Linked DNA regions of Homo sapiens. The protein of the gene in region 1 purifies or fractionates together with the protein of each later gene. This does not show direct contact. Each region holds a gene or a part of one and is shown on either strand. Other genes may lie near its edges. The genes, in order: IRAK1BP1 and SPECC1L.

Region 1 (2,851 bases):
ATTTATAACTTTTGAGGTAAAGGGAAAAGAGAAGAGAAAAAAGCACCTTTGAAATTCCAAACAAATTATATTGTACTTGTATCTTTTTACCTATTTTTATACTTTTTATAATGTTTACGTTTGTCCTGAATATATATATATATATATATATATATATATATATGGTATAGGAGATAAGCTATTTCTTTCCAAAATCTATAAATCTTTGAATATAGTCCCACAGAATACTTATGTTCACTTTCTATTTTTAAAAGACTACTCTGAAAAACACTCTTGGATAATAAATGTATTATGTGCATACTTATATACTGACAGTTCATACAAGCACATGTGTAATATTTCTATTATAAGGACAGATATTGACCCTTGCATTTCATAATTTTTAAAGATATTTAAGCTAAAATTTTCTCAGCCACATTTTTATATAAAACCAAATTTTATGTAAAAACTAGGCTTCAATAAGTTAGCTAAATTTTTTAAATTGTAAGACAAAATTTTTATGGAAAAGAATTCCTATATCCCATCAAACCTAATAATTTTCCACAACTAAAAATGAGTATAAATACATAATTTTAAGTGCATCCTGTCAGGTCTGATATTTAATTTTACTTTAGTTAGAAGCTAAGTAGTTACCCTGTTACTTCTTCATGGATGCTAACAGAAGACTTGAGATTCCCAGACAGAAACAAAGGACTATTACTCATGGCACAACAAGGAGCATGAGCATCAGCACATTCTCATTGCTTCCCCTTGTCCCAGGTCCCATGGGGGCAAAATGATATGGCCATATGCAATATGGCTACATATACAGCAGGCTTTTGTTGTAGGTAAAGAATACTGAGCTTGGAGGGTTCACTGCTTTTTATCCATGAACAGAAGCAAACCTGCTCTTTGCCTCATCCCTTATAGATGCTCACTCAAAACTCAATACTGAGAAATGGCCCAGGTAAAGAACAGCCAAGGTCTTTCATGCTTGCCACACCCAGCAATATGTTTAGGAAGGTGAAGTCTACTGAGGGCTATCTCACATCTAACAGTTTCTTTACTAGGACCAGAGACCATTTTGGTAAGATGCAGATAACAACCCCAACCTTAACAACTTCACAACATGAATAGAAATAGTGATAAATAATTCATAGCTTTTTACAAAAGAATAATGAGGTATAATAGGAAAATGTTTTGATGCCAAAAATAAAAGAGTTAATGTTTGGATCGGACTCCAACAGGGCTCCTTAGAGTGATACAAATACAAAGCAAACGATATGTGTAATTTAAAATTTCCTAGTGCACATGTTTTTTTATTTTTCTTTTTCGAGATGGAGTCTTTCTCTGTCGCCCAAGCTGGAGTGCAGTGGTACGATCTCAGCTCACTGCAACCTCTGCCTCCTGAATTTAAGCGATTCTCCTGCCTCAGCCTCCCAAGTAGCTGGGATTACAGGCGTGAGCCACTGCATCTGGCCCTGTACGCACATTTTTAAAAATAAAACTTTAAAAAAGAAACAGTTGAAACTAATTTTAATAACATTTTATTTAACCAAATATATCAAAAATATTATTTCAGCATGTAATCAGTATTTTTTAAATTGAGATATTTGTTTTATCTTCAAAATTCAGTGTATATTTTTACATAATAGCACATCTCAATTCACATGCTAAATTTTCATCAGAAATATTTTATCTGTATTTAAATTTCCTAAAATGTACAGTTGAAAAAAAGAGATTCACATACCCAGGTTGTTCTAGCATGCCTAAAAAATCTTGTAACTGGATCAAGTATCAGTTTTTAAATTAGTTAAAATTAAATAAAATTTAAAATTTAGTTCCTCAGTCACACTAGCCATATTTCAAGTACTTGAAGGCCACAAATGGCTTGAGACTACCTTGCTGAACAGACCAAGGTCAAACACTGAGATAATAATGATTCTTAAGGCCATTTGAAAGTTAACAGCAAGTATGTATTACTGCTATCTACAGTAAGAATTACATTTTATCTACAGGCAATCATAAGCCATGTCTGTTATGCAGCATAGGCTTTCCATTCTCTATACATCTAGGTCATAGAGTTTTTCCATTGATAAATCTGGATGTTTATATACCAACAGTACTTTCTTACAACATATTCCAGTATATAGTGTCCAGCTTCACCCACTTTTTAAAGTGGCCCTGAAACAATTTTATTCATCTTATTGGAGTGTTGCTGTAGGGGAAGAGTAGAAGCTAAGAAGAGTTTGAGTTCAACACCATTATATCCAAATCCTGACCTTACTACTGGAATGTAAGCTCCTTGAAAGTGGAGATCTTGTCTGTCTTGTTCACAGTTGTGTTCCCAGCCCCAGAGGTAGTCTCAGGGCCAATATCAAGTATGCTCTCAAATATTTGCTGGGAAAATTTACTAGCTGGATAAAAGGCAAGTTACTTTAATCTCTTTAATCTTCCTTTGTCCTTACAAATGAAAGAGACTAATAGTACTTAACCTTGCAGTGTTATTATAAGGATTAAAGTTGATAAATATATGATCATGAGAACAATTGCTAGCACATAACGGTCACTCTGAAAATAGTAGCTGATATATCAGCTGCATTGTTTGATTATTGTTGGCTCAATTAAAAGTTGGCTTTTCCAAATCCTCCATTAGGAAGAATTTTTAAATAGCCATATTGAAAATAAAGTTGTCAGAAAACCAATGTAACATATGTTGAATTTTTATTACCAAAAAGAAGTTACTATCCAGTTGTACAGAAAAGTAGAATGAGGTTGTGCATCAAGAAAAAAATTGTTCGTTCTCAACAAAAATTTAATCACATGGGTAGTTTTTTTTTTTTTAGCTATGGGTTCATGCTGTATTTGGTTG
Region 2 (3,825 bases), on another chromosome or scaffold:
TGACAGCCGATGGTAAGGGGCTTCCCCTTTGCTTGGCTCTCATTCTCCTCCTTCCTGCCACTATGTGGAGAAGAATGTGCCTGCTACCCCTTCCACCATAATTCTAAGTTTCCAGAGGCCTCCCCATCTCTGTGGACCTGTGAGTAAATTAAACCTCTTTTCTTTATGAATTACTCAGTCTGGGGCAGTTCTTTACAGCAGCATGAGAATGGACTAATACAGATTCTAAGTGGAATACATAAGGAAGAAAGCAGAGCAGCAGAGGAGGAATGTGGGCAGGTAGATCAATGAGGTAAAAGAGGTCCCACATTCAGGGGCGGCAGTAAGAACAGAGAAGAGGCAAGAAATCTGTGACAGATATCAAAGGCAAGAGTAACCAGACTGGGATAAACAACTGTATACGGAGGCCAAAAATGGAAAAAGATGGCATAACTTTTTTTTTTTTTTTGAGGCTCTGTCACCCAGGCTAGAGTGCAGTTGTGCCATCACAGCTCACGGCAACTCTACCTCCCAGGCTCAGGTGATCCTCCCACCTCAGCCACCCGAGTAGCTAGGACTACAAGCACACGCCACCATACCCAGCTAATTTTTGTATTTTTTGTAGAGACGGGGTTTCACCACATTGGGCATGTTGCCCAAGCTGGTCTTGAACTCCTAGGCTCAAGTGATCTGCCCACCTTGGCCTCCTAAAGTGCTGGGATTACAGGCGTGCACCATCGCACCTGGCTGGGGTAACTTTTTTCCCCAACATTAATTCCTTTCCCTAGTTCTGCAAGTGGTACCACATCCTTATCTAAATCAAAAATCCTTATAAAAAAGAAAATCTGGCTCTCCCTCTCCCCTCTCCCCTCTTTCCACGGTCTCCCTCTGATGCCGAGCCGAAGCTGGACTGTACTGCTGCCATCTCGGCTCACTGCAACCTCCCTGCCTGATTCTCCTGCCTCAGCCTGCCGAGTGCCTGCGATTGCAGGCGCGCGCCGCCACGCCTGACTGGTTTTCGTATTTTTTGGGTGGAGACGGGGTTTCGCTGTGTTGGCCGGGCTGGTCTCCAGCTCCTAACCGCGAGTGATCTGCCAGCCTCGGCCTCCCGAGGTGCCGGGATTGCAGACGGAGTCTCCTTCACTCATTGCTCAATGGTGCCCAGGCTGGAGTGCAGTGGCGTGATCTCGACTTGCTACAACATCCACCTCCCAGCAGCCTGCCTTGGCCTCCCAAAGTGCCGAGATTGCAGCCTCTGCCCGGCCCCACCCCGTCTGGGAAGTGAGGAGCGTCTCTGCCTGGCCGCCCATCGTCTGGGATGTGAGGAGCCCCTCTGCCTGGCTGCCCAGTCTGGAAAGTGAGGAGCGTCTCTGCCCAGCCGCCATCCCATCTAGGAAGTGAGGAGCGCCTCTTCCCGGCCGCCATCCCATCTAGGAAGTGAGGAGCGTCTCTGCCCGGCCGCCCATCATCTGAGATGTGGGGAGCGCCTCTGCCCTGTCGCCCCGTCCGGGATGTGAGGAGCGTCTCTGCCCGGCCGCACCATCTGAGAAGTGAGGAGACCCTCTGCCTGGCAACCGCCCTGTCTGAGAAGTGAGGAGCCCCTCCGCCCAGCAGCCGCCCCGTCTGAGAAGTGAGGAGCCCCTCCGCCCGGCAGCCACCCCGTCTGGGAAGTGAGGAGCATCTCTGCCGGGCAGCCACCCCGTCCAGGAGGGAGATGGGGGGGTCAGCCCCCCGCCTGGCCAGCCGCCCCGTCCGGGAGGGAGGTGGGGGGATCAGCCCCCCGCCCGGCCAGCCGCCCCGTCCGGGAGGCGAGGGGCGCCTCTGCCCGGCCGCCCCTACTGGGAAGTGAGGAGCCCCTCTGCCTGGCCAGCCGCCCCGTCCGGGAGGGAGGTGGGGGGGTCAGCCCCCTGCCCAGCCAGCCGCCCCGTCCGGGAGGTTGGGGGGTCAGCCCCCCGCCCGGCCAGCGCCCCATCTGGGAGGTGAGGGGCGCCTCTGCCCGGCCGCCCCTACTGGGAAGTGAGGAGCCCCTCTGCCCGGCCAGCCGCCCCGTCCGGGAGGGAGGTGGGGGGGGTCAGCCCCCCGCCTGGCCAGCCGCCCCGTCCGGGAGGGAGGTGGGGGGGGTCAGCCCCCCGCCCGGCCAGCCGCCCCATCCGGGAGGTGAGGGGCGCCTCTGCCCGGCCGCCCCTACTGGGAAGTGAGGAGCCCCTCTGCCCAGCCAGCCGCCCCGTCCGGGAGGGAGGTAGGGGGGTCAGCCCCCCGCCCAGCCAGCCGCCCCGTCCAGGAGGGAGGTGGGGGGGTCAGCCCCACCGCCCGGCCAGCCACCCCCTCCGGGAGGGAGGTGGGGGGGTCAGCCCCCCGCCCGGCCAGCCGCCCCGTCCAGGAGGTGAGGGGCGCCTCTGCCCGGCCGCCCCTACTGGGAAGTGAGGAGCTCCTCGGCCCGGCCAGCCGCCCCGTCTGGGAGGGAGGTTGGGGGGGTCAGCCCCCCGCCCGGCCAGCCGCCCCATCCAGGAGGTGAGGGGCGCCTCTGCCCGGCCGCCCCTACTGGGAAGTGAGGAGCCCCTCTGCCCGGCCACCACCCCGTCTGGGAGGTGTACCCAACAGCTCATTGAGAATGGGCCATGATGACAATGGTGGTTTTGTGGAATAGAAAGGGGGGAAAGGTGGGGAAAAGATTGAGAAATCGGATGGTTGCCGTGTCTGTGTAGAAAGAGGTAGACATGGGAGACTTTTAATTTTGTTCTGTACTAAGAAAAATTCTTCTGCCTTGGGATCCTGTTGATCTGTGACCTTACCCCCAACCCTGTGCTCTCTGAAACATGTGCTGTGTCCACTCAGGGTTAAATGGATTAAGGGCGGTGCAAGATGTGCTTTGTTAAACAGACGCTTGAAGGCAGCATGCTCGTTCAGAGTCATCACCACTCCCTAATCTCAAGTACCCAGGGACACAAACACTGCGGAAGGCCGCAGGGTCCTCTGCCTAGGAAAACCAGAGACCTTTGTTCACTTGTTTATCTGCTGACCTTCCCTCCACTATTGTCCTGTGACCCTGCCAAATCCCCCTCTGCGAGAAACACCCAAGAATGATCAATAAATAAATAAATAAATAAATAAAAAGAAAATCTGTTCATGTTTGAAAGATAAAAGAAGAAAAATTCTTCTCTGGATTACTGTAATGAGTAGACAGAATAATCTGAGGTAAAGACAAGTGAATTGATACATGGAAATCAAACAGTCTTAGGAAAGTCACTGGAGGAGGTAAAGGTAGAGCAGATGAACTGAAGAATAAGGATGTTGTTATAGGCTGAACTGTGCCCGCACAAAACACACAAAATTAATATGTTGAAGCCCTAACCCCAAAACCTCAAATGTGACTGCACCTGGAGACAGGATAATGAAGTTAAAGAGGTAATTAACGTAAGATGAAGTCATTAGGGTGGGCCCTAATCCAACATGACTGGCGTTCTTGTAAGAGGAGGAGATGAGGACACACACACAGAGGGAAGACACAGAGAAGGCAGCCATCTGCAAGACAAAAAAGAGATCTCAGGAGAAAGTAAATCTGCTAACACCCTCATTTCAGACTTCTGGCTTCCAGATTTGAGAAAATAAATTTCTGTGGCTTAAGCCATCCAGTCTGTGGTATTTTGTTATGACATCCCCAGCAAAATAAAATAAACGTACAAAGCCATACTGGGGCAGCTAATCCAGAGAGGTGATAACTGAATCCTGAGGTCAGGTAGCATCAGTCAGTAAGAAACTAAGTATACAAACACATGGAATCTCTCCCAGTACAATTCTAAAGGCAGGAAACAGGAAGACATGCAAATGGCAAGAGTATTTAATTTC

The links.
Region 2: the proteins of IRAK1BP1 (region 1) and SPECC1L purify together in Homo sapiens (affinity purification with mass spectrometry; one large-scale study listed by BioGRID and IntAct). This does not show direct contact.

The regions. Positions count from the first base shown.
Region 1 is NC_000006.12:78,898,283-78,901,133, forward strand, and holds part of IRAK1BP1 (interleukin-1 receptor-associated kinase 1-binding protein 1), read left to right. Parts: coding exon 1-52; 3' UTR 53-2,851. UniProt on the Homo sapiens protein: Component of the IRAK1-dependent TNFRSF1A signaling pathway that leads to NF-kappa-B activation and is required for cell survival. Acts by enhancing RELA transcriptional activity.
Region 2 is NC_000022.11:24,315,541-24,319,365, reverse strand, and holds part of SPECC1L (cytospin-A), read right to left. Parts: intron 1-3,825. UniProt on the Homo sapiens protein: Involved in cytokinesis and spindle organization. May play a role in actin cytoskeleton organization and microtubule stabilization and hence required for proper cell adhesion and migration.